4 linked regions of the Homo sapiens genome follow. The protein of the gene in region 3 interacts with the protein of the main gene of each other region in a pairwise test. Each region holds a gene or a part of one and is shown on either strand. Other genes may lie near its edges. The genes, in order: KIFAP3, SEMA3B, NAA10 and MEOX2.

Evidence for each region.
Region 1: the proteins of NAA10 (region 3) and KIFAP3 interact in binary tests that used the Homo sapiens proteins (3 or more experiments, as listed by UniProt).
Region 2: the proteins of NAA10 (region 3) and SEMA3B interact in binary tests that used the Homo sapiens proteins (3 or more experiments, as listed by UniProt).
Region 4: the proteins of NAA10 (region 3) and MEOX2 interact in binary tests that used the Homo sapiens proteins (3 or more experiments, as listed by UniProt).

The regions. Positions count from the first base shown.
Region 1 is NC_000001.11:170,029,679-170,036,718, forward strand, and holds part of KIFAP3 (kinesin-associated protein 3), read right to left. Parts: intron 5,876-7,040; coding exon 5,776-5,875; intron 4,819-5,775; coding exon 4,694-4,818; intron 2,307-4,693; coding exon 2,208-2,306; intron 1-2,207. UniProt on the Homo sapiens protein: Involved in tethering the chromosomes to the spindle pole and in chromosome movement. Binds to the tail domain of the KIF3A/KIF3B heterodimer to form a heterotrimeric KIF3 complex and may regulate the membrane binding of this complex.
Region 2 is NC_000003.12:50,272,134-50,278,073, forward strand, and holds the end of SEMA3B (semaphorin-3B isoform 1 precursor), read left to right. Parts: intron 1-985; exon of another isoform or gene 986-1,164; coding exon 1,165-1,310; intron 1,311-1,401; coding exon 1,402-1,513; intron 1,514-1,610; coding exon of another isoform or gene 1,611-1,625; coding exon 1,626-1,695; intron 1,696-1,779; coding exon 1,780-1,924; intron 1,925-2,229; coding exon 2,230-2,449; intron 2,450-2,709; coding exon 2,710-2,801; intron 2,802-2,878; coding exon 2,879-2,920; intron 2,921-3,168; coding exon 3,169-3,326; intron 3,327-3,426; coding exon 3,427-3,482; intron 3,483-3,571; coding exon 3,572-3,711; intron 3,712-4,168; coding exon 4,169-4,573; 3' UTR 4,574-5,413; downstream 5,414-5,940. UniProt on the Homo sapiens protein: Inhibits axonal extension by providing local signals to specify territories inaccessible for growing axons.
Region 3 is NC_000023.11:153,928,685-153,932,037, forward strand, and holds the end of NAA10 (N-alpha-acetyltransferase 10), read right to left. Parts: intron 2,164-3,353; coding exon 2,079-2,163; intron 1,540-2,078; coding exon 1,303-1,539; 3' UTR 541-1,302; downstream 1-540. UniProt on the Homo sapiens protein: Catalytic subunit of N-terminal acetyltransferase complexes which display alpha (N-terminal) acetyltransferase activity. Acetylates amino termini that are devoid of initiator methionine.
Region 4 is NC_000007.14:15,683,651-15,690,676, reverse strand, and holds the start of MEOX2 (homeobox protein MOX-2), read left to right. Parts: upstream 1-3,993; 5' UTR 3,994-4,274; coding exon 4,275-4,791; intron 4,792-7,026. UniProt on the Homo sapiens protein: Mesodermal transcription factor that plays a key role in somitogenesis and somitogenesis and limb muscle differentiation. Required during limb development for normal appendicular muscle formation and for the normal regulation of myogenic genes.

The sequences.
Region 1 (7,040 bases), on a different chromosome or scaffold from region 3:
ATCAATGGAATAAAAAATTGGTAGGGCTAAAAGCACCCAATATCAACATTTTCCATAAGCTATGGTAATGAAGACACTGTGCTATTGGCATCAAAAACACACAAAAGTGATGGATAGAACAAAATAGAAACCCAAAAATAGGCATGACACATTGGACAAATGGTTCTGACAAAGATATAAATCAATTCAGTAGATAAAAGATAGTGTTTTCAAAAGTAGTACTTAAATAATTAGCTATTTATATGCAAAAAGAATGAAGAACTTTGATCCATTCCTCACCCCATATACAAAAATTAACTCAAAATATATTATAGCCTTAACTAAACTCTGAGACTATACAACTTCTAGAAGAAAACATATTAGAAAATAATTGTAACCTTTAGTTAGGAAAGGATTTCTTAGACACAATACCAAAACCATGATCCAAAAAACACTAAGTTGGAATTCATAAAAATGTAAAATTCTGCTCTTAAAAAGATACTTTAGGAGAACAAAAATTTCTGCAAATCATGTATCTGATAAATGCTTATATCCAAAACATATAAAGAATGGATACAAAACTATCCAATTTAATAATAAGGCAAAAGTTATGAAGGCACACTTCAATAAACATAAAGAGATGGCAGATAAGCACATCAGGAGATGCTCAACATTAATCAGTCACTAGGGAAATTCAAATCAAAACCACATACATTCATGGTGAGAATATAAAAACAACTATTATAGAAAAACATTTGGCAGTTTCTTACAAAGTTAAACATACACCTATCCTATGACTCAGCCATTCCATCATTAGGTATTTAACTAAGAGAAAAGAAAGCGTATGTCCATACAAAGACTTGTAGAAAAATGTTCACAGCAGCATTAAAATTGCCAAAAACTGGAAATATTCTAATGATCATCAACAGGTGAATATAAGGAAATACTATTCAATAACAAAAAGGAATAAACTATTGATAAATGCAATAATATGGATGAATCTTTAATTATGCTGAGTAAAAGACAAAAATGCATACATACTATATGATTTCATTTATATAAAACTCTAGAAAATGCAAACTAAGCTAAAGTGACAGAAAGCAGATCAGTGATGACTTGGGAATGAGGAAGAAGGCAGAAGGAAGAAGGAAAGGGAGAGATTGTAAAGATGCATGAGGAAATTTTGGGAGTGATGGATATGTACCTTATCTTGATTATGGTCATTATTTCATGGGTATTTACATATGTTAAAATTTATCAAATTATATACTTTAAAACTATACAGTTTATTGTCTATCAGTTATACCTCAATAAAGCTGTTAAGAGAGTATACAATATTTGCATAAATATTTGGTTAGAAACAGAGCTTAAAGTTTTGCATGTTAAAAAAGTCAAATTAGTTCTTTGAAACTTTTACATGAAAACAATTGCTTTCTTGAGATCTGATGCATTTTGGATTATATGCTAACACAGATAATACCTATTATTTTCTAGCATATTTTAAAATGAACCTTTGAAAATCTGACATTTTCTCCAACAGGTTGAACTAAATTACTTGGCTTCAAATATTTAAAAAACTCAGTGTAGTTAAAATTGCTACTAATCTTCACAGGATGAAAATATTTTGGGAGTTAACAAGTATTTCCATGTACAAAGTTAGTCAAACACCAATAAACTACATGAATCATCAAATAGTCAAGTATAAATCCGGACTTAAATTCACACTTAAAAGCCCCATGTCATTATCACTAACCACCATAAGATTTTACATCTTATCAGTAACCAAGAAACCATACTATTGAAGTTTTAAATATCTTAATAAAGCTAGAGACAAGGAATTCTTTTCTATTAAACAAGAGAAATATTTTAAAATGTTTATATCAATTTCCTAGGAAAGCAACAAAATAATTCACTTTATAAAACAAGTAAGTTAGGGCTGAAGAGACAAAGATTGATATTATTGAAAAGGTCACACACTGGATTAAAAAATCCTTTCTTAGGAAATAAATAATAAGTATACAAACATTTAGGAACTAAATGGGGAAAAATAGTAGAGTGAAATTTAAAACATTACCCATGCTAAAGACAGACGAACTTGTAGCATATTAACATTTATAGAACTTTCAGCTATTCTCACATTAGCTTTACAGGTATGATAAAAAGTGAACAAAACAAATGTATTTGGAGTAAGTACTTTGTTGCTTTCCTCATTGCTTAGGAATTCATACCTCGTAATAGCTGTTCCTGTTTTACCACAAGCCCCTGGTACTTTTTAAAGGTTTTTTCATAATCCTTTCTCAAGGTTTGGTTTTCAGGGTCTTCATCAAGTAAACAACTTGTTAAGGATCATCCATACTCATTGAAGCAAAAAAAATCTACTGATAAATTCTATGAACAATGGCACTATTAAATTTTATGTGCAACTTTATCCAGTTATTTTTCTCACCAAAAGTTTAACTAAAATGTTATCTGCATAATAACTGTGCTGTAACAGCACTTCTTATTTAAGTGCTCATGGATTCCCTGGGAGTCTTTGGGTGAACAAACTTTTTTATGTAGCCCACAGCTAACATCATATAGATATTTGAACCTCACCAAATACTTGAATTCCCAGAAACTATATGTGAATATTTTATATAGGTGCACAAGTCTATAACTTTCAACAGATTATCAAGTGGGTCCACGAACCAAAAAAATTACTGCCTCAGAAAGTGATTTAGTTACTAAGAACACTGGATTTTACTTCAGACAGATGCCCAGAATATTCAAAGGATATAGATTAAATCTAAAGCTTTTGTAGCAGCCTTTTCAGACTAGAGATGCCAAGAAAGAACTAACCCAAACTTAAAGGTAAACAAATTTTAAAAATCACATCTTCTGGTCCCAAATCGTCCTCTGGACTTCTTGCAAAAATAATCAGTTACTTCAGTATCCCCAAGCATATGAGTCAAGCATATGACCCCAGAATATGAGTCAATGCAGCTGACCTTGTTGAATACCACTTGTATCAAAATACAAAGAAATTTAGGACATAATAAAATAGCAACATGTCAGGAGAAATGACCAGAATTCTGATGTCATTTTTATATCCCTTCAATTACCATAATCTGTTGAGTCTAAGATACATTTTCCTCACATCTTAACATCTCCAAAACTGGATGTGTCTTATAATCCCTGATGTGTCATAGTTTAATTGAAAGCATATGTTCCTCTCCTCGCACTTAAACAATAGTGAATCTTAAAATTAATGGTGTCTGATACAGAAATACAATATGTCCTAAGATATCAGTTCTTGTCACCAAACAATAACAAAATGCAAATTCATGATTGCTAAAGAGTTCCACTAGTGGTTCCCTCCATACTTCTCCAGTTTAAATAAATTTTGGGTACCACTGAAGCATTCAGGAGTCTTGTGACTCCAGAACTGATGTAAAGTCTCTAGGATTCTTGGGTTGTTGATGTAGTTGAGTCACTATCAATCTAGATGCCAGAAGTTTATGGTATGCATAGAAAATTTATAAACCTGAAAAGATTCTAATTAAGAAAAGTCAAAGCTTGTGTGTGGGTGTGGATTTTATAGTGTCTTGGAGTTCCATGTGACAACAGTAAAAGCCTGAGAGATTTTGTACACAATAACCTGAATTAACCTGTTACAACATAGATTAAATTGAAGCCTCAGGGTTTCCAGAGGCCAAAATTAATATAAAAGTAAGGTCCACTTTTGCACAAAGCAGAGTTAAAAATGTATGATATTCTGCAAAATAGGAATAAAGTTTTCACTTTTTAAAAGACATAATAAACACTTGATTCAAAGGAAAGTTACCAGCATGCCTAGTTGATCTGCAAAACATATCATGGTTGAACAGATATGAATAAACCAGGGGCCTTTGATCTAGAAGCATTGAGTTTAGAGGCTAAAATATGATAAATATCTTCAAATATGAGAAGAATTATGATGTTGAAGAGAATAGCCTTATTCCATATTGCTTTAGTATACAATACTAGAACCAATGGATAGAAGTTATTGGGGAATGGACTTCAGTGCACTAAGCAAAAGACTATTATAATAAACAGAATGCTAAACCACAGAATGGGTGAAATAAATAAACACTGACATTGTTAAAGAGGAGCCTATGTAATAGCATTTGCCAGGGAAGTTGCAGAAATATTTTTATATTTGTAAGATAGGTTAAAACAGATACCTAAGTTTCCTTTCACAGGTTCTATTATTCTATAGGCCTTTCAAATTTTTATTTATTAACAACAGTATTTTTGCACTTTCCTAGAAAAATAGAACCTTTAACTAGGTTCATCACCAAATTTACACCCATTCTAATCAAAGTCACCTTAGTACTCACACAGAAGTATATAAGCAGCAGTGGTGGGCCAGGCTTCAACTAACCAAAGGATCTTAGTGGATGTAATGATGTAACCACTTAGAGGCTCACCTACTAAGTTACCCGACACAACTATTACCTGCTCCTTCTACCTCATTAACTAATAAAGGTTGTGAAGAGACAAAAAGTGAATATCAAACTGTATTCATTTTGATAGTTTCAATCTACTTCTTAACCTTCAATAACACACTCCTGCATTGTTTCCAAGTAATGTAATTAACAATTTTTAAAAAAGAAAAAAGAACAAAACCATCCCACCCATCCAAAACTTAAAGCAAAAGACAACAGACGGTTCAAATGCCACTCTAAAAGGATATCAGCTTTCTTCTTCTTTGAGAGTTCTTCTTGCCAAAGCTCATGTCTTTTTAACTCATGATCAATAATATTCATACACAGAGCTCCAATTTTATAGTGAGTAATAAGTCCATGAAATTGAGAAAAGCTTTAAAGAAGACATTTTAATATATATTTAAAAGAATACATTTTATGGGTACAGGAAATTTGTTTTTGGTGATCACTGGTACGAACCATGTAGAAAATAAATTTGATATACATATTTTAATAAATGAATATATCCACAATACACTAGGAAGACTTGCGATTATAAAATTACTTTAAATATATCACACTACTCTTACCTAAAATAGTTATTTTTAAGAAGTTAGAAAGTAGACATTTTTTGTAACTAACCACCATATTAACTACTCAGATATTCAGAATAGATTTTTAGATTATTGTCTAACAAAACTAATAATGTAGCAATACTAGACATACATTTTATTTATTGTATAAAACTGACATCAGAGAATTCGTAAAGTACTAGTAATCAGGTTTTACATATGTTTTCTAGACAATACATTAATCCAAGTATTTATTCAATAAATATTTATTTGCTAATACTAGCACATTTTTAGAACAGAAGCAGCAATTATCTAGGAATTGGGTAGAAACTTTTCATAATGTCTTAATAAGTATCTTCTTTCTTAAGGATATATGTGTATAAATAATAAATACAATACATAACAGGTATGTGTTTGTACATACATGCATATATATAACAATAACATTTACTGAGCACTTACTCTGGGTCAGGCTTTATTCTAAGTATTTTAATTTTTAATTCATTTAATCCAAAAAACTATCCAAAGAGGGTGCCACTATTACTATCCAAATTTTACTCATAAGGAAACTGAGGCATGAGTGGGTATAGACTAAATGAAAGATAGAATAACAGATAGCAAGACAGACAATGGAAAACAGGAATAAGAATTCAGCAGTAGAGCATAGGCAGACACACAGAAAAACTGAGAGAACAAGTGATCTACAAATTGAATCAATGACACAGACAAAGAGCAATAGAGATACAGTAGCCTTTTTATTTAATAATTTTTATACTTACCTGGAGAAACAAAAAAAGATGTAAATTATGTTTGTAGCTAACTCGACACTTTGCTTCCAGTCTTCTCTCAGGACCCTTGCTAATGCACCAAGGGCAGTTTCTAAAGAAAAAGGAGAGGTACCGAAACGATCATTCTCCTTGCTCTGGTATAAAGGGTGATTGGTTTTAAATGTCTAGTTATTAATGAATAATAAAGCTAAGATAGAACTGGGACAAAAAGTAGGATGCTTCTTTCCAATACAGACAGCTACTTTTAAAACTAAAATGTAATTTTACTTAAAGATACGTAACATGCTGCTTCAAGTATATACTATACACAGAAGTAATCAAATATGATTTAGATAAAGTGACATATGTTATGGTGACAATAAAATAATTAAAAAGCCTTTCATTTCTTAATTTAATAACCTTAAATTAAGAACTGTAATCTTCCTACTTCAGTACTGATTTTTTTCTTTTTAACATCTGATTTAATGTATTTGATAATATGAAAAAAACTTGAATAAGTCTAGAAAAAAATGAGCAGGTTAGTAGACTAACACTCGTTCCATTAAAGCAAATTAAAAACCAAATAAAATCTATACACAGAAAAATAAATTTAATATTTCAGTATCACACTGAATTTATGCTAGTAGCCACAAATAAAACAAAAAGCTTTCACAAAATTAACTTTCAGGTAGGTTAATAAGCATTTCTGCTAAAATTTTCTCTTGAGGAAATGAAAATTATAAAGTAATGACACTAGTTTCAAATCAGGTTGGTACATGGCATACTAATTCTTAAAATAATTAAAATATCTGTATGTTAAAATATAGAAATCATAATTCCACTGTTCTTAATAGATACTCAGGATTTACAATAGTACTTTATGGACTGCATTATGAGTATTTATTATGGTAATGAAAATGTCCCATATTTGAGCTTTCTGGCTATTCAGACTATGAACAAAAATTGATTGTATTAGTTATGAATCCACGTAGTGACAAATTTTTTAGCAAATTAAAAATCATCCTATGATAGCATTTCACAGTATTATTCACATTCACAATGCAGAGAACTTGAATAGTACATGCTTTGAAAAAAATTATTTTGGAGTCACATAAATAGGTTGACAATGCATATTAACAGCAAAGCCTCCAAAAAGTCCTATTTAATAAATAATCTGGTGTAGCTTTGTTCAATCTAGTAATTCCCAAAGGTATTTGACCATTATAATCCAGATAAAATAGTATTTCTTTAAATACTAGCCTATACAGAACTGTTCT
Region 2 (5,940 bases), on a different chromosome or scaffold from region 3:
GGCATGCACACACCTGTAGTCCTGGCTAGTCAGGAGGCTGAGATGGAAGGATCACTTGAGCCCAGGAGTTGGAGGCTGCAGTGAGCCATGATGCTGCCACTGCAGGACAGAGCAGACCCTGTCTCTAAATCAAATAAAAATTAAATAAGGGCTATGGGCTGGTGGGCACAGTGGCTCACACCTGTAATCTCAGCACTTTGGGAGGCGGAGGCAGGCAAATCGCTTGAGGCCAGGAGTTTGAGACTAGCCTGGCCAACATGGTGAAACCCTGTCTCTACTAAAAAATACAAAAATTGGCCGGGTGCAGTGGTGTGCACCTGTAATCCCAGCACTTTGGGAGGCTGAGGCGGGCGGATCACCTGAGTTCAGGCATTTGAGACCAGCCTGGCCAACATGGTGTAACCCCGTCTCTACTAAATATACAAAAATTAGTCCGGCATGATGGTGTGCATCTGTAATCCCAGCTACTCAGGAGGCTGAGGCAGGAGAATCGCTTGAACCTAGGAGGCGGAGGTTGCAGTGAATGGAGACTGTGCCACTGCATTCCAGCCTGGGCAATAGAGCGAGACTTCGTCTCAAAAAAAAAAAAAAAAGCCAGGTGTGGTGGTAGGCTCTGACTGTAATCTCAGCTACTTGGGAGGCTGAGGTTGCAGTGAGCCGAGATCGAGCACTCCAGCCTGGGCGACAGAGCGAGACTGTCTCAAAAAATAAATAAATAAACAAATAATAATAATAATAATAATAATAAAGAGCAATGGGACCCAGCAGAAGGATTTGAAGCAGGAGTGGGGAGCATCTGGTTATGCTAGAGAGGAAGATTCATGAGTGAAGGTGAAACCAGATTACCTCATCTCCCTCCTACCCCAGCCTAAGGTGCTGGGCGACGTGTGGGGCGAGATCGGAGGCTAGCCGGGCTTCACGCCTGCGCCCCCAGGTAGCCACGGTCTCTGCTGCCCCCTCGCGGCTGCTTCTTGCCTCGCAGGCCCTGATCCTTTGGATTCGGTCCGCGCAGAGCGCCAACTGGACATGGTGCTAGAGGTTGGGTGGTCAGACACTGTGATCCCGGGTGCTGTGCCCGCACTACGGGAAGGGGAAGCAGCGCGTGGGTCTCGCATCAGGAGGCAAGGCCAGGACCCGCTGACCCATGCCTCCTGCCGCGGTCAGAGCCCAAGTTTGTCAAGGTATTTTGGATCCCGGAGAGCGAGAACCCAGACGACGACAAAATCTACTTCTTCTTTCGTGAGACGGCGGTAGAGGCGGCGCCGGCACTGGGACGCCTGTCCGTGTCCCGCGTTGGCCAGATCTGCCGGGTGAGGAGTCCCTGGGCCACACCCGGCGACCCTGCCCCTACCCCTTTGCCTGCCCTGGTCTCGCCCTCATCCCCTTTGATCGTCCCGGCAGAACGACGTGGGCGGCCAGCGCAGCCTGGTCAACAAGTGGACGACGTTCCTGAAGGCGCGGCTGGTGTGCTCGGTGCCCGGCGTCGAGGGCGACACCCACTTCGATCAGCTCCGTGAGTGCGGGAGTGGGTATGGGGTTGGGGAGGGGGGCAGCGGCGCAGACTCCGGGAGCCCCCGCCGCAGCGGGGCTGTGCGCCCTACCCCAGCTAGGCCCCTTCCCCGCAGAGGATGTGTTTCTGTTGTCCTCGCGGGACCACCGGACCCCGCTGCTCTATGCCGTCTTCTCCACGTCCAGGTGAGGGGCAGGAGGTAGGGAGCGCCCGGGGCGGGCCGCTGGGCTCCACCCGGCCCCTCACCTCGCCCTGGTCTTCGCCTCCAGCAGCATCTTCCAGGGCTCTGCGGTGTGCGTGTACAGCATGAACGACGTGCGCCGGGCCTTCTTGGGACCCTTTGCACACAAGGAGGGGCCCATGCACCAGTGGGTGTCATACCAGGGTCGCGTCCCCTACCCGCGGCCAGGCATGGTTCGTAGCCCAGGGACTTCTGCTACAACCCACTTCAAAGCCTCAAGGGTTTGAGAACTTGGCCTGGGGTCTTCTTGGTGAATGTGGTTTCTTCCTTTAGTTATGGGTGGGAAAACGTTTCCATCATAAGACAAGGCTTGTTTCCCGCCTCTGACTTCCTAGGGCAAGGCTGATCTCCTCTCTAATTCTCAGGGCAGGGTTCTGTCCCCATCCCCCTCCATGTTCCCAGAGGCTGGGCATGGAGGGCTGCCTATCAAGCCCCCATATCTATATCCCTGCTGTGCCTCCCTTTCCCCCACCCCCAGTGCCCCAGCAAGACCTTTGGCACCTTCAGTTCCACCAAGGACTTCCCAGACGATGTCATCCAGTTTGCGCGGAACCACCCCCTCATGTACAACTCTGTCCTGCCCACTGGGGGGCGCCCTCTTTTCCTACAAGTTGGAGCCAATTACACCTTCACTCAAATTGCCGCGGACCGGGTTGCAGCCGCTGACGGACACTATGACGTCCTCTTCATTGGCACAGGTCAGGGTCCCTCCACAGCGACCCCCAGGCTCCCAGCCAGGCCCTGTGGGCTGCTGATGGAAGCTCTCCCTGTTCAGTCCCATCTCCACATCCTTTCCTGGGCTGTGTCTCCACCCTGTGGATGCTGCCCAACCCACACTCTTCCAGTCCACACTCTTCACAACCCAAACATGCTGAGGGTAGACGCCTCAAAGGCGAGGAGACACTAGCCCCAGCTGTCCGGGAGCACCAATGGTCATTACCCCTTCTCATCCCTGCAGACGTTGGCACGGTGCTGAAGGTGATCTCGGTCCCCAAGGGCAGTAGGCCCAGCGCAGAGGGGCTGCTCCTGGAGGAGCTGCACGTGTTTGAGGTGAGGCCTCACCCCCAGTCGCCCGGGACCCCCCCACCCCACTAAGCCCTGACCCCGTCGCCCCTCCTCCCTCTCAGGACTCGGCCGCTGTCACCAGCATGCAAATTTCTTCCAAGAGGGTGAGTGACCAGGATGGGGGTCGGGGTGGGATGGACTGAGCTTGTGCCTGGCGCGTCCCAAGCCTCTGGCCCCTTTTGGTAGTTTGCAGTCCCGGGTTTGAGTACAGGCTCTGGCTTTGTTAGACTGTGTGACCTGAGGCGTAAGACCTCAGTGTTCCCATCTGTCGAGTGGAAGAAGGGATCCCTGACCGATGGGAGGCAGGCGTGGGGTCGCCCTCGGTCAGCCCAGAGCCCCTCGTGCCCCCTAGCACCAGCTGTACGTAGCCTCGCGGAGCGCGGTGGCCCAGATCGCGTTGCACCGCTGCGCTGCCCACGGCCGCGTCTGCACCGAATGCTGTCTGGCGCGTGACCCCTACTGCGCCTGGGACGGGGTCGCGTGCACGCGCTTCCAGCCCAGTGCCAAGAGGTGGGCGGGGTCGGGGTTGGGCCGCCGGGAGGGAGGCGAAGGGTCTTTCACTGCCCGGGGCTGAAAGAAGGGCTCACAGAAGATCGGATGTTCCCCACAGGCGGTTCCGGCGGCAAGACGTAAGGAATGGCGACCCCAGCACGTTGTGCTCCGGAGGTGAGTGCCCCAGCTGCCCCTACCCTCAGCCCCAGAAGACGCCCCACCTGCCCTGCCTTGCCTAAATCTGACTTTCTTCTCGCCCCAAGACTCGTCTCGTCCCGCGCTGCTGGAACACAAGGTGTTCGGCGTGGAGGGCAGCAGCGCCTTTCTGGAGTGTGAGCCCCGCTCGCTGCAGGCGCGCGTGGAGTGGACTTTCCAGCGCGCAGGGGTGACAGCCCACACCCAGGTGAGCCTTACTCCGCCCTCCCCGCCAGGCTCCTGTCCCACCCCCTGCATCCAGGAGAGGCCCCGCCCTACCCAACGAAGCCCCGTCCAACCAGACCCACTCCCCGCCCTGTCCAGTTTGGTCCCTCACCTGCACTCCACAAGCTGCTGAGGCCCCATTGCGTCCAACGGGGCTCCCGACCCGCCTCCCCTGAATCAAGGAGAAGACCCGCCCTCGACCCTCCCATTAAGGTCCCTGACCACCCCCCACCAAGTTCATGTAAACCCCGCCTCTTTCGGATTCTCCCTTGAAGACCACCAGCTCCCAAACACTCAGCCTTAAAATGTGCGCCTGCGGGCACCCCTTTCCCGCTCCACCTCGGCTCCCAATGACTCTTTGCTTCTTCCGTCGCGTGCTAGGGCCCGGAAGCCCTGTTCCCGGCCCGACACCCCCGCCTCACGCTGCCCTCTGCCCGCAGGTGCTGGCAGAGGAGCGCACCGAGCGCACCGCCCGGGGACTACTGCTGCGCAGGCTGCGGCGCCGGGACTCGGGCGTGTACTTGTGCGCCGCCGTCGAGCAGGGCTTTACGCAACCGCTGCGTCGCCTGTCGCTGCACGTGTTGAGTGCTACGCAGGCCGAACGACTGGCGCGGGCCGAGGAGGCTGCGCCCGCCGCGCCGCCGGGCCCCAAACTCTGGTACCGGGACTTTCTGCAGCTGGTGGAGCCGGGCGGAGGTGGCAGCGCGAACTCCCTGCGCATGTGCCGCCCGCAGCCTGCGCTGCAGTCACTGCCCCTGGAGTCGCGGAGAAAGGGCCGTAACCGGAGGACCCACGCCCCTGAGCCTCGCGCTGAGCGGGGGCCGCGCAGCGCAACGCACTGGTGACCAGACTGTCCCCACGCCGGGAACCAAGCAGGAGACGACAGGCGAGAGAGGAGCCAGACAGACCCTGAAAAGAAGGACGGGTTGGGGCCGGGCACATTGGGGGTCACCGGCCGATGGAGACACCAACCGACAGGCCCTGGCTGAGGGCAGCTGCGCGGGCTTATTTATTAACAGGATAACCCTTGAATGTAGCAGCCCCGGGAGGGCGGCACAGGTCGGGCGCAGGATTCAGCCGGAGGGAAGGGACGGGGAAGCCGAGCTCCAGAGCAACGACCAGGGCCGAGGAGGTGCCTGGAGTGCCCACCCTGGGAGACAGACCCCACCTCCTTGGGTAGTGAGCAGTGAGCAGAAAGCTGTGAACAGGCTGGGCTGCTGGAGGTGGGGCGAGGCAGGCCGACTGTACTAAAGTAACGCAATAAACGCATTATCAGCCAAAGCTGGAATGGCCCCAGCAGAAAACCCCAGTCCTCGGCCTTGCTATGTGGTCTTGGGCACCTTACTAGCGGTGTCAGGGCCCGAGTTTCTCCTGTCCAAGGTTGCCTGGTGAGGATTAAAGGTGGTTCCGGCCAGGCGCGGTGGCTCACGCCTGTAATCCCAACACTTTCGGAGGCCCAGGCGGACGGATCACGAGGTCAGGAGATGGAAACCATCCCGGCTAACACGGTGAAACCCCGTCTGTACTAAAAATACAAAAAATTAGTCGGGCGTGGTGGCGGGCGCCTGTAATCCTAGCTACTCAGGAGGCTGAGGCAGGAGAATTGCTTGAACCTGGGAGGTGGAGGTTGCAATGAGCCTAGATCTCGCCGCTGCACTCCAGCCTGGGCGACAGAGCGAGACTCCAAAAAAAAAAAAAAAAAAAAAAAAAAAGGTGGTTCCGCGTGACTGAACAGGTTCTGTAGGGCCTTTGGGAATAGTGACACGCAGGGTACATTGTGCATAATATAACTTCAGGACTAAGTGCTAGGAAGAAAATAAAACTGGACCGGGCGCAGTGGCTCACGCCTGTAATCCCAGCATTTTGGGAGGCCGAAGCAGTCGGATCATGAAGTCAGGAGTTCAAGACCAGCCTGACCAACATGGTGAAACCCTGTCTCTACTAAAAATACAAAACTTAGGTGGGTGTGATGGCACGCGCCTTTAATCCCAGCTACTCAGGAGGCTGAGGTAAGATAATTGCTTGAACCAGGGAGGCAGAGGTTGCAGTGAGCCGAGATCGCCCCACTGCACTCCAGCCTGGGCAACAGAGCGAGACTCTGTCTCAAAGAAAAGAAAACTGGGTGATGTGGAAAAGAATGTACACAGAAGGCCTCACTGAAGGGGTGGCATTTGAGTTCGCTGACAAGACGGGGCTGGCCACAGGGCTATCT
Region 3 (3,353 bases):
AGGGACTAGGGACAGTAAATGATGGCTTTGCAGCCGGAGGGGAGGGAAGGGAAAGGAGGAAAGACACAGAAACGAGCGTTACGGTTAGGGTGACTCCATGAAAAACAGGATTTTGATATATATGTGTATATGTATATATATATGTATATATATATTTTTTTTTTTTGAGACGGGTCTCTGTCCCTGGAGTGTGGTGGCATGATCAGGGCCCACAGCAACCTCCACCTCCCGGGCTCAAGCGATCCTCCTGCTTCAGCCTCCCGAGTAGCTGGGATTACAGGCATGCACCACCACACCCGGGTAAGTTTTCTATTTTTAGTAAAGATGGGGTTTCGCCATGCTGCCCAGGCTGGTCTCCAACTCCTGAGCTCAAGTGATCCCGCCCACCTTGGCCTCCCAAAGTGCTGTGATTACAGGCATGAGCCACCGCACCCAACAGCCGCCCAGTTTTGTATTTTGCATGAAATTGTTAATGAGGGAATACATGGCTTTATGCATTTGTGTAACCCCATAGAAACTGTACAACACAGACAGGAAACCTACTGTAAACCATGGGCTGTAGTTTACAATAACTTATCAGTATTGGCGCATCAACAATAACAAATACACCAACTAATACAAAATGTCAATGGGGAAACGCGGGGAATTGTACTAAAAATAAATTATTTTCAAATGCAAACTCAGGTTAGGGAGTAGACTCAAGAGGTATCATGGACTCACTGACCATTAGGGTGGCAGGGGAGGGAGGACTCAAGGACTGTTGATGGGGCATCTGGCTGGGTCATTACTCAGACAGGACATTTGTAGATAAGCCCAATGAGCAGTTGGATGTCCACATCTGGAGCCCACGGGTATGCTGGGGAGCTGCTGTAGCCCGAAGCAGGTGTGATTAGGGAGAGAAAGTCTGAAGGTGAAGGTGGGAAGAGAACTGAAGGCCACCAAGAGTGGGAGCCCTGCTGTTGAGCTTTGAGCCTGAGCAGCCCCGGCTTGTGCCACAAAACACATTCAGCGTGGCCAAGCAGACCTCCAAGGCAGGGTCTCTCCCATAAGTCCAGGGCCTCCTTCCCCGGGGCCACAGCTGCTGAAGGTCATGAGACTAGGGAGTCCCACCTCCAAAGCTCTTTCCTTGTACTCGGGCCTGGCAGGATGCTCTGGGTCAAAAGGCCAAGGCTCACATCCCCACCAGAGGACCTGGAGAAACACACCCTCTAAATGTGCGCGCGCTCACACACAAAGTTCCCCAGTGCCACGGAGCGAATTTATTGTGAAAGCTCGTGGGGTGAGGAGGGGATGGGGCAGGCTCTAGGAGGCTGAGTCGGAGGCCTCTGAGCTGTCCTTGACATCTGTGCTCTCTGTGGTCTCGCTGACCTCGCTGAGGTCCTTGCTGTCCCCACCACTATCCTCGGCAGCCAGGCCCTTCTCCTCGCGACAGGCCTCTCCTGAGCTCGGAGGTGAATTGCCTTTGCTCTCCACCTTGTTCTCGATGGCACCCAGCACCACGTGCCTGCCCTTCTCTTTCAGCTCCAGGTGCCGCCTCAGCTGCCACCAGGAACCCAGGGAGAAGCGGGGGCAAAGAGACAGGGCCTAAGTTTCCAGACAAAGGGAGCCTGGCCCTGTCGCTGGCTGAGGAGAGGGGCATAGTGAGGCAGCAGGGCTAGGCAGGACACGCGGGACTGAGTGGGGACACCTGGCTGGAGCCCCAGTCCACCGCTACCTGGGCTTACCGACTACCATGGAGGCCCCCACGACAGAGCGCTGCCCCTTGACCAGCCCTGCCACCCGATGAGCCTTGGGCAGAACCCTGACTCAGAACTACCTTTGAGCAGGCAGGCCACCCACTGGTCCCTAGACCTCCCCACTTCCCTTCTAAAAGCCTCCTCCCTCTGCCTCTCCCATCACCCTCCAGGCTGCTAGGCAGATGGCCTCCTCTAAAGCCCAGCCTAGGAAACTGAGGTCGTGACTCCTGGCAACGTAGCCACAAGAGCTGGCATCCAAAGTCGGTCTCGCCTGCAGCCACTGTCTTGGGGCTCCTGAGTGCCGCCCCCGCTCGCCTTGCTTGGCTTCATGCAGGCGCTTACCTCGTCGGCCATCTGAGTGAGGTCCCGCTTCATGGCATAGGCGTCCTCCCCATCTGCATAGTATTTGGGCTCCACTTCACTGATCCTGGGGGCAGAGGGTTAGAGAGCAAGGAGGAAGACCTGTATCCCGGGGACACCCTCCTCCACTCCTGGTATCGTGGCTACTGGAGCAAGGTGCCATGTTTTCTCCCTGAAGGCTCCATCCTGAGACAACAAGTCCAGTGTGACCTGCCCTCTGTTCTCTCCAGCAAAGGCTCCAGGACACAGCGGCCCGCCCCACCCGTCCTGCCCCCGTTCTGTGTCCTTAGCCTGGATACTAAGGATCCATTTCTGCGGTTTCTTGTGAGCTGAAGCCCTGAATTCAGCCTTCCCCTTCCCTCCCTGCCCTGCGCCCTGTCCCTTACTGAGCTGCCTCACAACAGCCATCAGAACCCAGGAAAGACGGTGAGCCCTGCCTGAGCAGCTCTGGGGCCGTGACTACACTGGGCAGGTGTGTGTGCAGACTCGCGTGGCCATGTCCCTGGAAGGGGAGCTGGACTCAATGGCCTAGGCTGGCCCTGCCAGGCCTAAGACATGAGGATTGCTGACTTAGCTATAAAGCAATTCCCACCAGACATCGTCATCTGGGTCACAGATCCCTCTTGCCAGCATCCAGCCCAGAGGCCACCGCCCTTCCCAACAGTCCCTCTTCTTCATCCCCTACCAAACGGGCTGAGTGCAGTTAGTGTCCCTCCACAGGCAGCCCACCCCAGCTTCACTTGCAAGCACTTTTTTCCACTGTCTACTGGGCATGCCAACTGCCAGGTTCTCTCTAGTGTGCTAGGCACACGGGGCCTCCTGGTCCTCAGGCAGACCTCCCCCATCCACTAGGCTGCCTGGCCACTGGCCCTTCCTTCCTGAATGTGCATTCTCCTCGATTCTGCTCTCTCTTGGATTCTTCTAGGTGCTTGGTCATGCTTGAGTCCTGCTCCTCAGCATCTGCTCACGCCAGGGACCCACACCTCTCTATTCCCAAACATTACTAAACAGCCCGTGTGCCCTTCGCCAGCCTCAGCCATCATGGGCCAGAGCTCCTCCATCACAACACATGGAGCACGTTTCAGCAGGCAGGTGCTGTCTCCATGCCGGCTTTTCAACCATCAGCCGCCGAGTGAATGTGGAGGTATCCTGGCAGTGCTGGGGTCCACAGCCTCTTCCCCACAGCCGGCCCACCCCCGACCTGGAAGGCAACTCAGCCGGTCTCAGGTGCCCTGATGGGCCAGACCTGGGATCAAC
Region 4 (7,026 bases), on a different chromosome or scaffold from region 3:
TCTTTTGGTACATGTAAAATGAATGTAACAATTTTTACTGTGAATGTACCAATTAATGTTATATAAAAATAATAACATTTTAAAAATGTGTAAAAGTATACAGAATCACTAAATAACATGCATTAGCCATAGCAAAATTGTTCCATAAACTTTATAATGCATAGTTCCTGGGGAGAATCAGTTCCTTAGTTTTATAAAATAATGTACATCATAAATCACATAAATTACCATTGGGTATTTAGCATATTTGGATACATTTTCAAAATTCTTTATTTCAGAAGAACCAACTGAAGGACATAACTGCTACTTTTTGGCAAAATATAGCAGAAATAATATTTCTATACCCAATAAAGTTTTCAGAAACAAATTACAACATTAATTTAATTATCCACCCTTTAGTTCATATATTATGAGTATATGTTACCAAGGAAAATTTATCTATTAGGTAAAATTCAAAGTAGAGTTTCCTATTTAATTTTAAATATTTGAAGTTCCATGACAACTCATGTCACACGTGTGCAGAAGAATGGCAACTTTTAAAAGAATCGTTGTGAATCTTAAAGTAAAATTTAAATACAATTTTGTTGTATTGCTTAATATGAGCTCTAGTCCCCTTAAAATAAAATAGTCCTAATAAAAAGAAATCTCTGCCTTTACTCTTGAATGTCATTTTATTTAAGCCGAGGAAACAATAGATATACACACTTATCAAGTTTAAAGAACCTAGCCTACGTTTAAAATAATTATAGCTGTGGACCCTGCAAGAGCTAAGTAGCTTACCTTTTCACAGAATCAACCTCTTTATAATGTGTTACTTGATATTGAAACCTTACATGAAATGTTGGCATTAATATAACTTATCTTCAGGAAAACTCAAGTATATTATAAATGTAGGATAAATACTATATCATACATAGTTGTAAATGATTGTTATATAGAAATTTTATAATAAATTTTATAATTTTTACCATTCTTCTTGATATCATTAGGTAAAAAGGCATCTTTTCAATATTGGATTTTATGGATGTGAACACTGAAGTAGCTATTATAGGAAATGCTAGGGATTTTTTTCCCGTTGTTACTACATTTTAAAAATTTCTCTATAACCTAGAACATAAAATTCAATATTCTATCTTATTCCAAATATTCTAATAAAATTTAAAAATCTTTATGTAATGATTAATACATATTTAGAAATCCAGAGAAAATTAAAGTTATATTTAATTCTGGAATTCACCAAGACGTCCTTTTTAGTCCTTCATTTTTTCCTTCCAAATATTTTCCTTATATTCTGTTTTCTATAAGAAAACTGGACATCATAATTTTTGCTGATATTAAATGTTCTGTGTCTTCAATTAAAAAGACCTTTCTTGCTAGCTTTGTTTTCATTGCATGCCTTTGGAATGACTTCCTCCTTTTCTAACCTTTCTTAAATTTTTCTTCCCAGGTTTCTGGCCCCACAGTTCTAGAGGCTGACTGACTGGGGCAGGTTGTAGAGAAACTTCTGGACAGGTTGTTAACATCTGACACAGTGAGTGAGAAAAAATCCAGCACAGTCACTGGGCAGGTTTAAGAAGAAGTGGCAGCCTCGGGAGATGAAAGGTTTGTGTGTGCTTGTTGCTGGTTACCTGCAACACACTGGTTAAATTCAAATCCATTCATTTAGTAATTGCTTAGCTTCCTCTAAACCAATGTAATGCAAACCAAAAGGACCGTTGTGGATGTTTTGTACTGATGTCTGCAGATCATGAGTAATTTTAGTCTGTCTTGTCTGACATTTTCCACAATGCTTTTAGTTGACAGCATTATATTATGTAAATATTTCTGGTTAGGTTTATTGAGGTGGTTGCCTAAATCTCACTTTAAATAAAGCCTTTAATGCTTTCACCCAGAATCCATAGAGAAGCTACATGAGTTGGGGAAGTTTAGTGTTGCTCTTTGTACTTTAACTTTTAATATCAGAGCACATATTGAAACCATAAACACAATGAAAATACAAAAAAATATTCCGACGATATTGGAGGACTATAACTCCCCCACCTCTTTTTATTCTTAAAGAGCCAAGGGCGTGGGGAGTGGCAGGAAGAGATATTCTCAAGATCTAAGTCCTGGACGCCATCCTGCGAGTGCTTAAAGCCCCTAGAAACGTGCAACCTGAACAACACCCCTTTTCGAAGTCTAAAACAATATTAGATTCCCAAAATATCGGCAAAGAAAGTCTTACCGTCAGACTTGCAGCAGGTTTCAGCTCAGACCCAGACTGAAAAGCTGAGCAGCTGGTGAACAAAAGATTTAGTTTTTTTTTTTTTTTAAACGAAGTCTGCAAAACTAATTTCCCTCAAAATAGAGCTCAATTTCCGTTAAAGAAAGCAGCGCTTACAAATCTCAGAATTCCTGATCAACCCCCACTCCACCCCACCTCTGAGCAATAGAAAACAATTCGATCTTTCACACGGATGTTATTGCGAAGCCACTATTCTGCAGTGTGACTTAAAAGAAAAGAAGATAGTGAGGCTTAAGCAAGGGGACTGGAAGAGGAGGGGAAAGGTTCTGCTTTGGGGACACCTCTCAAAGATTAATCAATGCTTTTTCCTAATTCAAACCAGATGTCTAGCCCAGTTTGCTGTACCCATTAATCCCACTAACAACTTCAAAGACCTGGTCATCATCCTCTGGACACCTGAGACAATGAAAAAACGGGGCGACACTGCTGGTGGCGCATTTGGGGCCCCGGGCAGAATAGGTGACTACAGATATTCTCCTGATGCGACAGGTCGCAGATGGGACATGACTGTTCCTCCTGCTCATTACAGCGCCACTCACTTGTGTGTAAACGACTCTGCCCCCAGCGGACCCTGTCGCCCGCCAAGCAAGTAGCAGCTTCAAAGCCCTGCCCTCGCTCTCGCATGCTTACTAGAGGCGAGTTTTCTATTTTATTTTCAGGGGTGCAAAATTGTAACCAAGTGCCCACGGTGAGTGAATTTTGGGAGCTATCGAAATGTAAGAATTCTCAGTAAATGGAACCCTGGTGGTAAGGAATGCATTAGCGGATTTATTTTTGAGCAGAAGAGAGTGGATTTCTGGAGGAAACCGAGGAGATCTGGGCTAGCTCCTGAGGGGAAAGGCTAGAAATGCGCGTGCAATCTACACATCTCATATGACCGGGACACAATCGCTTGGAAATATTCTTGACCCAGGAAAAGTTCTTCTTGGTGGACAAGTGGCTAGGAAATTGAGCGGGACCGGGAAAGAGGGGGAAGGGAGCCTCCACCTGGCATCGCACGTGAGGATGCCAGGGAGCAGGCATCTGCAACCCTTTCAGACTCACGCCTTCCTCCCACCCACCCAACCAGGTCCGTCTTCTTTCTGCACTGAGAACCGCCTTTTCCAGGCCATGGTGCTCATCCCCGCAACCTCAGATCTGGCGTCCCAGCCTATTAACAACCCACCGACAGAAACCAGCTGCGAAAACCTAGGCGCGCTGCGGCGCCCGGGGCACGGGAAGATGCAAAGTTTGAAAAACTTCGAGGGTGCGCCAAACTAGCTCTGGTCTTTTCCTTTAACCCTATTACTTCTTTCGTGTTCCTGAAAGGATAGGCGTATCCCTAGCTTTTCTGCAGGTGACAGTTCCCAAATGACACTGACAAGTCACGTTTCCCCGAGAGGAAAGTGAGTAGGTAGGAATCAGGGTGCTAGGTTGGGGGTGGTGTGCGCCGCGCCCAGGCCTCCAGAGTCTGGAGGGCAGAGCTGCTGCCCTCCCGGGCGGGACTTAGACGTTGGCGTGCCGCTTGTAGTCCTGGCAGCCGGCAGTGCTGGGCGGGCGTGGACGCTCTACGTCCGTCCAGCAGGAGATAGGAAGTGGAACTGGGAGCGCGTGGCGCAGGCTGAGCGGGAGTTTTGGAGGGAGTTTGCATGTGGTCAACTCTGGGCTCCTAAGCCAGCCCCCAGCTCACGTTACACTCTATTTATAACTTCTCAGAGCCATTTCCCCCTGAAAGCAGTTCTCTGGGACCACCTTCTTTTGGCTTCAACCTCTCCCACTCTTGACATCTGAGTAGCTCAGGGAAGCTCTTCCAGGTCCGACTGTTCATATGTAAAGGAGACTGGCCGCTGGGGCTCAGGACCGGGATTATCCGAGCTCTGCAGAAGTGCACCGCTATTGCTTTGGGAGGTTAAAAAAAAAATCACACGGTTTCCAGTGAAAAAGTGACAGAGGGTGGTGGCCTTTGGAACCGCCGTGAAGTCTTCTGCCTGGAACCCGAAACTTGCATGCTATGGAACACCCGCTCTTTGGCTGCCTGCGCAGCCCTCACGCCACGGCGCAAGGCTTGCACCCGTTCTCCCAATCCTCTCTCGCCCTCCATGGAAGATCTGACCATATGTCTTACCCCGAGCTCTCTACTTCTTCCTCATCTTGCATAATCGCGGGATACCCCAACGAAGAGGGCATGTTTGCCAGCCAGCATCACAGGGGGCACCACCACCACCACCACCACCACCACCATCACCACCATCAGCAGCAGCAGCACCAGGCTCTGCAAACCAACTGGCACCTCCCGCAGATGTCTTCCCCACCGAGTGCGGCTCGGCACAGCCTCTGCCTCCAGCCCGACTCTGGAGGGCCCCCAGAGTTGGGGAGCAGCCCGCCCGTCCTGTGCTCCAACTCTTCCAGCTTGGGCTCCAGCACCCCGACTGGGGCCGCGTGCGCGCCGGGGGACTACGGCCGCCAGGCACTGTCACCTGCGGAGGCGGAGAAGCGAAGCGGCGGCAAGAGGAAAAGCGACAGCTCAGGTAAGGGCGCGCCAGGCACCCTCGAGAGTGCGCGCCGGGCTGGAAAAGGGGCGGAGAGATACTAGGGGAGATTCTCGCACTGGAGGGTGGCAGCAGGGAAGATGGGAATGTGTTGCCCTCTGTGGCTTCCTGCGGCCAAATTCGGCGGTGAAGCTTTGGTCCTGATATTTGGGGACACGTGTTTATTCGAGAGCAATGCGTATACAGCCAGCAGCTCTAAGCCCTCCAAAGTCCTAAACTAGTTTACCAGAAGGTTGATAAAAAAGGACAAGTGGCTGTGAAATCGATTGTGAAGCGTGACCTTCCATCCCAGCGCTGGGGAGGGAGGGGCGTGCGCCCAGGGATGCAGCGTCCGTTGGGCAGGCGTGCGTGCGGGTGCCGCTTCTTGACTTTTCTCTTGCAAGTTGCCGACTCTGAGTGGCTCGATTTTTCCCATCGTTAACTGGATTTCCAAATTATTGCACAATGTTTGGAACTTGCAATGGAACTTGGCAGAGCGCATGAGAAAAAAAAGTTTCAGTTTTTTTTTTTTAACATTCTTATTTCAGCGTTCTTTAAATAGCACCCTATTTCAAATGGTAAAATTTTCCCTTTATTGGGGAAGAAGACATTATCTAGGAATTCAGATTTTAAGGAATGTGTCAGAGAATTGTAAATAAATAGATGCTCACACTGGAAGAAAGACGAACCTTAATAGTACATGTCCATGTGGTGTAAGCTAATTACAGAACCTAAGTTTCAAAAGTGGAAAATAAATCCCTCTACCAAGTGGGTATTAGTAGAGACAAATACTGCGAAGCAACAGCAACTCGGGTACTGTTAGTTAGATACGTGTCTAAAGGGGTATGCAAGGGTGCGCGCAGGAGGCGCTGATTTCAGTGGGGATAATTTGAGCAGCCATGCAAAAGGGGAACCTTCCTGACCTCTGGTGCTTGAAGGCACAACGTGCCGAATAAATTGTAGCAATCCAGAGAAACTCAAAGTTTCCAGACAAGTTTTCAAAGCTCTTACCTACCTGTATTTTTATAAAATTGTTAAAAGATACTTTAAAATTAAGAGACTTGTGAGTTTTCTTTCGTGGGTATAGTGCAACCTGGATTAAATACTTTTGGAAGGTGTCATTTGTTTAATATAATATTTGCATATTTTTCTTCCTCTGTGGAATTGGGTTAATAATAGTCCTAGAAGGTAATCCCATATGTTGGTTTGAAGGATTGGAAAAATGTTGATCGTGTGTAAAGCTTTAGGTAAGATGCCACATAAATGAAAATGATTGGCCGCATATTTAATATTCCTTCACCATTCACAGCAATATCAATTGTTCTTCAGCGTTACTATAGGATGGATTCTTCTCTCACGGTCTCAAAAGCTAACTTTTATTTTCCAAGGTCAGGGGGTGAACTTTTAATGTTCCATCACAAATTAGTTTTTATAAGAAAATTACCAGTAGTGTCACTGATATTTAATGTATTTTCCTAACTATAAGTGAAACTCTCTTTAGATAGTGAGTTGAAAGGTTAATCATAGCAAAAAGGTTTCAATTTTTATTAGAAAAACAGTCGATTTTAGAATGCAGTGACAATTTCATAAACTGAACATTTGATATCAGTGTAACTTTGGAAGCAGATCCCAGTTCGGGTTGATGAGCGTACTCTTGCAATTCCCATAAGCTCTTACGGTTCATTTTATTTCTTGCAATGAGAAACCTACATGATAGATTGTTCTTCATGCTTCCTGAACTGAGCCATTGCCCTTAAGTTTCTCAGGGCAAACAATTTTCATACAAGCACATGTTATTTTGTTTGGGGAAAACTGAGAAAACGGAATTCAATAACTGATTCCCTTAATTTATTTTAATAATTTTTTTAAAAAATGGAATAATTTAACAAAACTAATTTATCTCTCCCCCCCAACTTAGTGGGAAATAACCATTTAACAAAATTAAATTCATTTCTACATTTTGAAGCTGATAATGAGGGTACTGGAAAAACAAGCAAATATAAGTGTTTGTGTCAGCTACATAAATTATTAACAGATTAAAACTTCAGTGGAAAGTACAATTAGTCATCACCAAGGATAAAAATACTGGGGATTTAGAATGAGCTTTTCTTTCCTTTGATATGTTGAAGAAATATTGACTAAAAGGAAAATCACAATAGTTTCTGTTTAAATCTATGTACACTTATTGAAAATAAAATTTTATTTGCCAATTTCAGCTGAAGGTATATTTGTCAG